Regions from separate parts of the Homo sapiens genome. Here region 2 is linked to region 1. The links come from fine-mapping of genetic effects on gene expression. A gene starts in region 1. The other region holds a variant in brackets. All regions are shown on one strand. Distances are between the middles of the regions. Region 1 holds the start of SCPPPQ1 (secretory calcium-binding phosphoprotein proline-glutamine rich 1). Region 2 overlaps SPARCL1 (SPARC like 1).

What was found. PIP is the estimated chance that this variant, and not a neighbour inherited with it, causes the effect. A credible set is the group of variants that fine-mapping cannot tell apart.
Region 2: its variant is the best candidate, but not a certain one, in a credible set for the expression of SCPPPQ1 in aorta (GTEx, PIP 0.67).

Annotation. Positions count from the first base shown.
Region 1 is chr4:87,469,408-87,473,813 of GRCh38, forward strand. SCPPPQ1 (secretory calcium-binding phosphoprotein proline-glutamine rich 1) reads right to left here and starts at 1,643. Exons shown (of 10, transcript NM_001405228.1): 1 at 1,610-1,643; 2 at 1,221-1,250; 3 at 185-255. The coding sequence starts at 241. SPARCL1 (SPARC like 1) reads right to left here. Exons shown (of 11, transcript NM_004684.6): 11 at 3,928-4,396. The coding sequence ends at 4,368.
Region 2 is chr4:87,507,045-87,511,450 of GRCh38, forward strand. All of the region lies in intron 1 of SPARCL1 (SPARC like 1), which reads right to left. Among named protein-coding and RNA genes, the nearest start is that of SPARCL1, 20 kb to the right of the region's middle. RefSeq lists an enhancer at 3,841-4,341. The variant C/A (reference allele first, on the strand shown) is at 2,200.

The sequences.
Region 1 (4,406 bases):
GAGCTGAGATTTGTACTGGGCAGAGTCTTGGACTGACAAAGAGTGGTGAACTCCTAGTTCTATGACTTTCCTGGGTTCCGCTTTCCTCTTTTGTGAAATGAAAAGATAAGACCTGCTTTCTAGCCGAGAAATGCGATGACTCTAAATCTGAAATTGAGTCAGCAGCTGAGGAGGGTGTACTCACGGGGATGGGCAGAGCAGTGGCAGTGCTCAAAAGGCCAGCCAAGATGAGAAATTTCATTCTAAAGGTCGAGCCTGGAATTGAAGGGGTAGGAGATCATTTCGAGTTTTTTTCTATGTAAGTCCTATTCCTATTTAGAGGTGTTGAAATAGTGGTCAAGATAAATCCTGCCTCCAAACATAGGTTTTGTAAGCCTACAAGAGTGTTTTTAAAAGCTTTGAATTCCTTAGACAAGACATGCACTGTTTAGCTCCCAACATAGCCCATTACTTTCTACTTTCTTATAAAGTTACAGTTCGGCCTATACACTGTACATGTTTGGTCCCTGAAGTTGCGTTTGTGATCTCTACACACAAATCTTTTTTTTTTTTTTTTTTTTTTTTGAGACAGGGTCTTGCTCTGTCACTCAGGCTGGAGTGCAGTGGCACAATCATAGCCTCCTGTACCCTCGAACTGCTGGGCTCAAGTGATCCTTCTGCCTCAGTCTCCCAAGGAGCTAGGACTACAGGTGTGCACCACCACACTTGGCTAATTTTAAAAAAATTTTCTTAGAGATGGGGTCTTGCTATGTTGCCCCCCTGTTGCAAGGATGGTCTTGAACTTCTGGCCTCAATCAACCTTCCCACCACAGCCTTCCAAAGTGCTGGGATTACAGGTGTGAGCCACTGTGCTCAATTCTACTCACAAATCTTTAAACACCAGTGTTACATCATGCTTATTATTAGTAATTGATCACTACTGGCTAAAATGAGAGGAAAGTTTTTATGTAATACACAAATAAATCCACCTGAAGCTTGTACCTCTGTGAGACTTACCAGGCCTTCATATAGTCTGGTTGCTGTTATTGCCAGTTATAGTTCTCGGGAAGGAAATTGTATGGGAAAAATTTTGTAAGATGTAATGGGTTGGTAGAAAATCAGCACAATATGAGTAAATTCAGATTCAATAAAGGAAATCAACTGGCCTTTTATTGGTCCATTGGTTCTGAAAGGAGACATTTTTATGTTTTAAAAATCGCACTTAATTCAAATTAACTTACCTTGTGAGTTTCAAACCAAATCACTGTATTCTGGAATTGGATTTTGAAAGAAAAACAACTTTATCATGTTATTATTAAGACTTATCTCCAGCATTTGAGGCAAGTTATATCTATAAATCACACTTCATCTGTTATATATATCTAAAACCCAACTCTGATTTCAATCTTAGTGCTACTTTGCCTGAATTTAGGCAACTTATTTCCCTTTTCCTTTTTCATGTTTTTTCTTTGTATTTTTCTTCTTTCTGGATTCAAACACTAATTTCTTTCTTCTTATTAGAAGTGGACCTGTTAGAAATCATTAAATTACCCAATACAAGAATATGTTACATTCTTTTATCTAGTGCATTAGAATCAGTCCAAATTATACTATATATCTCTTCAATTACCTTTGCTTCAGTGGCCCTTGGAGCAACAAATTCAAGGAGCAGTGTGATCACCTAGAATCTCTATGCCCATCTAGTATTTAAGCCATGTTACTAATGCCTTTATGGTTATGGGCAATATGAGTCACAAAATTCAAAGCTAAACTGAATAATTGCTTTCACACCAGGAGCTCCAACTTCCAAAATATCTCAATTACACAGAGGTAGACTTACAGACTGATTACTGAGAAAATAACTGAGAAAATAATCTCTTAGGTTGGGATTAGAGTATGTCTTTATCACAAACAACCCACAATTAAAAATTGTGACCACCAAGAATATTAACGTGCCTCTATAATAGATGAGCTAGCTGTACATGTAAGAGCCTTAAATGATACAGAAATTTAAGGTTTGAGATTTTCTCTTATTAAATATTTTTCATTTCAAAATGAATATTATTTTCAAACAAAATTTTTTAGTAGATATTGAGGTGGTTTCCTTACCTTGGTGTTAAAATCACTTTTCACTATTCTAAAATATTTTTGAAAGTTGTCTGAGGGTAAAAGATAATTTAGGCCTAATTAATACCTCTGAATACAACTTCACTGTTCCCAGCAACCTAGTTTGTAATTAGCTAAGACCTTTTCAGCTTCATATAAAAACGTTCTGAAATTTGGAATAGTTCCTAAAATTATTTCTGTAGTTGGAAAAAGTTACAAATAATACTTAATTCGATTTTGATTAATCAAATTGAACTTAATTTTTTAGAAAGGACATAGTATGATATGGTTCTAGTTAAGGTAATTGGCCAGGTGTGGTGGCTCACGCCTGTAATCCCAGCACTTTGGGAGGCCGAGGTGGGCGGATCACGAGGTCAGGAGTTCGAGACCAGCCTGACCAACATGGTGAAACCTCGTCTCTACTAAAAATACAAAAATTAGCTGGGCGTGGTGGCGCACGCCTGTAATCCCAGCTACTGAGGAGGTTGAGGCAGGAGAATCTCTTGAACCCAGGAGGCAGAGGTTGCAGTGAGCTGAGATTGTGCCACTGCACTCCAGCCTGGGTGACAGAGCAAGACTCCATCTCAAAAAAAAAAAAAAAAAGAATAAGTAATTTATTGAGCTATGAAAGAGATAACGAATGAAATTTTGAAATACTCAGAGAAGATTATTCTGATAAAAAAATAAACTATTCTGTAAATATCTTTCAGATAAAATTCCTAGGGGCATGTTCTCTCAGTGACTATCACAGATAAGGTTTGTAACAACAACAACAACAACAACACATTTTTGATTATTTGAAAAAATAGTAAAAGATAATTGTATTGATATCTTTCATTTCAGCTAGAAAAATATGTAAAAAACCATTTTCTTTCAAATAGTCAAATAAAGTGAGTGACATGTCCTTTTATTGCCTTACTTCAGAACTTGGAAAACTATATTATAATGTCATATTTTTGTGATCTAGCTTTTACTGTAATAGTTACCAAAGAAGAGCGCAAATAAAAAGACAAATTTTTGCTTATGACAGGTTTTTCGCTATCAATTTACATTAATAATATTTAATCTCTTTCTACATTGGACATCAAGACGCTTTATGGCCCTCTACCTGTTTTACCATTACATTTTCTTTATTGTGAGGCAATGATTATGTGAAATTTTTGCAGGGCCGCCCTCTTCCCCAGCACACATGCTCAACTGCACAAAAAGTTAGAATTAATTGGATCAAGCAGTGCATAATCTTTCACATTTTATTTTCATTTATTTATTTTTTGAGACAGGGCCTTGCCCTGTCACCCAGGCTGGAGTGCAGTGGCACAATAGCTCACTGCAGCCTCGACCTGCTGGGCTCGAGTAATTCTCCTACCTAAGTCCACCAAGTAGCTGGGATCACAGGTACATGCCACCACCCCTGGCTATTTTTTTAAGTTTTCATAGAGACAGGGTCTCTCCATGTTGCCTAGGCTGGTCTTGAAATCTTGAGCTCAAGGAATCCTCCCGACTTGGCTTCCCAAAGTGTTGAGATTACAGGTGTGAGCCTCTGCACCCAGCTTGTTCTACATTTTATATCAAATTTGGTAAAAAAGCACTTGATATTAGTTTTTTTCTGTTTAAACTTACATAATGATGAAGGACATTAATGAGCACCTCTTATCTTGCCACTGAGTATTTGTTTCCTGTAAGAGATGTCTCACACTTTTTTCTCAACCACACACACACACACACACTTAAGGTAGTAGGGTTTAGGAAGCACAATTATAATTTGACATGAAGTGTGAGTCTTGGGTTGATCTTTTACATTTGATTGTCTAAATAATAACTGGAAATACACTTGCATAAGCATTTGGATTTTTATGGACTCTTTATTAGGGTATTAAGATATTGAAAATAATACACGTAAACCACAAAAGAGTAGCATTCCATTTTCTTGAAGTGCACATGATATTATGAACAATACAAATGCATTATTTTTATCATTAATAGTTTAATCATTAATTATCTCATAAGTCAATGCAGAGAGTGAAATTACTATGAATTAAACTTCTGTTCACAATGTACAGTATTTTGCATATGTTGACTTTACTTAATTGTACATTTTTGTTTCCAAAGTTAATGTTAAATACCTGGTGCATAGGTTGTTGTCAAGCAATTACTCTCATTGTCTTGTCATACATGCTAACATTTTGCTAAATATAAATCTACAAGTATCACAGCTGCATATATTTCTGAAGTGGTTAGAACAGAGGAGGATGCTGGAAAGTTGAGTTCTTTAAAATCTTCGTTCAAAACAAGAGATTTTCATCTATGTCCTCTATAAAAAA
Region 2 (4,406 bases), 38 kb after region 1:
ATAATGTAATTTAAGTTTTGCTGTGAGGTCAGAAAAATTGTCCAGTGGAACATTAAAGTCCATTCTGGCCACACATTTAGGCTCCTTTTAATGCCAGGAGTATTTCCGACATTCATCACACATAACAGTGGAATTAGGCACATGGAATGCTACCCTATTTTCTTACAAATGGTACAACTTAAAAGGGGAGTAAGAATTATCAAACGTGTTTTGCATCATAAGGCTCATTTCTTTTTGTTTGTTGCAGCAACATGCATAACTAATTAAATTTGAGAAAATATTTCCCTTTTAATCTGTCCGCATGATCTCACATGATCTCACAAGTTCCCTTCATTTCCCTAAATCTAAATGTAGCTGAATGAATCAAAAGGAAAGAATGTCCAGTTGGCCAGAACTTGCATCACTAATCCATTTTTTTTAAATTCATTCATTGAGTACTTACTAGACACTGCCTAAGCACAAGGACACATAGTTTCTCTCTTAAGAGTTTCTGGGTGTGGAAAATCTCTAACTGCTTTTCCTGTGGTCTCACACCACGCTACAATCAACACAGAAGACTTCTGTGACCAAATGTGGGAGATTTTTTGTCATCAACATGCAAGCAATCAACTCTGCAGCAGGCACCAGCTGAGTGTCCTCCAAATGAATTCTGACACTGTGTACCTGGAGATAGCGTCAGATCCCATAGGTTGAGGGCTCAGTCTCACAAGACATCTTCCCTTTCCCAGATACCAGTCACAAGATCAGGCCTCCAGAACTTCTGGCTGACTGGTTTCAAGTTGGGCTTCCATGACTCCCTCTTGGGGTTCGATTAATTTGCTAGAGTGCATCACAGAACTCAGGGAAACACCTACTTAGATTTACTGGTTTATAATAAAGGATATTACAAAAAGATACAAGTGAAGAGATGCAAAGGGTGAGGTATGGGGGAAGGGGCACAGAGCTGCCAAGCCCTCCCCGGAACACACCCTCTAGGAACCTCCATAGGTTCAGTTATCTTGTAATTTCTTCAAACCTCGTCCCCTTGGGCCTTTTATGGAGACTTCATGAAAGGATAGGCACCATTGACAACCACATAGAAATGTGTTTAGACAAAAAGGGTATGCTTTAGTACTCAAAGGCTGAGTGGGGAAACCCGGTAAGGCCCATCTGTTCAGATTCTTTTTGGCCTCTTTTTTTTTTCCTTTGAGGTGGGTCTCACTCTGACTGTGAGGCTGGAGTGCAGTGGCGTGATTTTGACCTCCTGGGCCCAAGCATGCTCCCACCTCAACCTCCCAAGTAGTTGAGGTTACAGGTGATTGCCACCACACTTGGGTAATTAATTTTTTTTTTTTCTGTAGAGACAGGATCTTCCTATGTTGCCCAGGATGGTCTTGAACTCCTGGGCTCAAACGATTGTCCCATCTTGGCCTCCAAAAGTGCTGAGATTACAGACATGGATCACTGTGCTGGGCCTCTTCTTGGCCTCTCCATGCAACATTCCTTCCTCCAGAATATGGGGCAGAACCCCTTCTGAAATGGGGGTCTTATGACCTACAATCACACAAGGTAGGTAAAGGCAGAGGAAGATTAGAGTCCTGCCTTGGGGAGAAAAAGTAGCAGGTAAAAAAATAGAAGATTAGAGAGAGAGAAATCCTGTTATTCTGAGGTCCGCTTATGAGGCCTAAAATGCACCAACATTATAACATTATAAAAAGGTCTATGGGAATTATGAGACAGGAACCGTGGATGAAACATATGTGTGTGTGTGTGTGTGTGTGTGTGTGTGTGTATAGATACATATATGTATGTAATGTAGATACGTATATAGATAAATATATACATATATAGATACATGTATATAAGTATATATATATATATATAGTATACATATGTGTATATACTATGTATGTGCACCTGGAGATAGTGTCAGATCCCACAGGTTGAGGGCTAAATGTATACTATATGTGTACATATATAATCTATATACTTATATACATGTATCTATATATGTATTATATACACGTATCTATATATGTATATACTAATAATGTATCTATAAATATATAATATATTTATATAAAATCATATAGTGTAATGTGATGATTATGTACATAATGCAATGGAAAGAGAGATAGGAGGCATTTTTAAATTAGGTAGTTGATAATAGCTAACTTTACTACATCCAAAGTACTTAAGTTCTAGGCACTATTCTAAGAG[C/A]TTTGCACACACATATTCTTTAAACCTTCTGAACAGTTCTATCAGGTAAGCACATTATTGTAATCATTTCACTAGTAAGGAAACTCGGGCATAAAGATTAAGTAACTTGTTCAGGGTTACACAGCTAGGAAGTGGCACAGCAGATATTTAACACTTCTGTTTGATATCAGGTCTGTCTGTGTTCTTAACTACAGTGTTCTTAACTACTGTATAGAGATGACCTCCAGAGAAGGTAATTCTTGATCTGAGGTTTGAAAACTAATAAACAGTAGTTAGCTGTATGAAGGATGTTCTCACACAGCTAGATGTACTCTAGAGGGTGGCAGGCAGCAGCATGGGTGAAGTTGCAGAAGCATCGAGTCTCTAGGATGTTAATATTTGGGTCTCTAGGCTGTCAATAGGGGAAGTGGGCTGGGGTAGATAAGGCTCAAAAGTAAGCAGATAGCCATATTGTAAAAGTCATAGTGCATTAAACAAGGAATTAAAAATTCCAGCCATAGAGCTATAGGGACCCAAAGAATTATTGTAAGTGTCTGTGTGTGCACGCATGTGTGTATGTCTGTGTGTGTGCACACATGTGTGGACAGGGGTGATGATATAACCAGATTTGTATGTGTGACAGCTGTGTGGAGGACAGACCAGTAGCATGACCTGTGAGAGACAATTGTAACATCAAGGTGAGGTGGTCAGAGCCTTACATTTGGGCTGTGGTCTTAGGAGTGGAGAAAAGAGGGATAGATCCAACCTGTACTGGTTTGTGAGAGCTGTTTGTTACATTTCAAGACTTTTTTGAGTTGGTTGTTAAAGTCATCAATTAAAAATTAAATTACATACATGTATAATTTAATTATGTTAAAAGCAAAGAAAATAGTAGAAACTCATCACTTCATAATTATTTTACTATTATCTACTCTTTTGAGGTTATTTACATCTATTATATCTGTTGGTGGAAATACTATATAATATGTGTTCCGCATGTCTCTTCCCGATTCTGTTCAGTGGCGTCATGTTGGTAGCTTAAAATTGATAGCAACAGGAGGCAGAGAAACTGTAGGCATACAGGGGCGGGTCGCTGGCAAAATCCCACCTTCAAGCCGAAAAGCCTGAAACCCACAGCCCAAAGTGAGAACTTCCATTCTCTCCCGATTGGTTATTTCTGAATACTGTCTTTTTACCAATTGAATATTGCCTTTTCCAAAACTACCTACGGCCTGCCCCGTCCCCATCCTGTGCCCATAAAGACCCCAGAACTCAGCCAGCAGAGGGAAGAAGCAGCCTGATGTCGAGAAGAAGCGCCTGGACATAGGAGAGAGGTGGCTTGACTTCAGAGGAGAGGGATCTTCCCTTCCCATTCCCTTTCCAGCTCACCTCTCCACTGAGAGCCGCTTTCGTCACTGAAAAAAAAAATTCTCCACATTCGCCATCCTTCAATTCATCTGTGTGACCTCATTCCTCTTGGGCACTGGACAAGAACTCGGACACACTACGTGCAGGTATCCAAAAAGGCGGTCGCACTGGCCCTTTGCCCTTGCTGGCGGAAGGCAGTTGCCCTACGTGATGAGGCAAAGGGCTCACTGAGCTGATAACACACTGCTGTCTGCGGACGGTGGAGCTAAGAGTATGGTTACACGCCCTCTGGGGCTTGGCGTGGCTGGTGCCCACACCTGGACGCTGGTGAGGGGCCCACATGGAGTTTGCTCCTGCTGGTGCCAAAGTGGCCAGTTCCTGCCTTCGCTCGCTCAGGTTCCTGCAGTCATTCGCTTGCGCACTCCCTCCTGCAAGGGATTGAGCAGGGCGGGCTGAGTAAACAAGGCACCCCTGCCGCGAGTTCCGTGAAGGGGTCAAGAAAATATCCTGCATCAAAATCAGTTGTGGTGGGAGGATCAGTCACACCATGAAAACCATCAAGTGTCACCCACCTCTCCCTCTCTCAGAGAATGGGTTGCTCATTTACCAAAACACAACTGGATAGTTCTAAGAAATAATTAAAAAAAGAACAGATAAAACTTAATGACGAATTAGATATTGTAGGAATATGAGAAGGAAAAGTCTTGAGTCACATTTCTCATATGAACAACTTAGTAAATGGTGGTATTAATTACCAAGGTGAAGGATTATAGGAGGAAGGTTTGGTTTTAGAAGACAGACGGTGGATTAGTTTTGGGCTTGTTGAATTTGAGTAGAGATATCTAGTAGATACTTGGGTA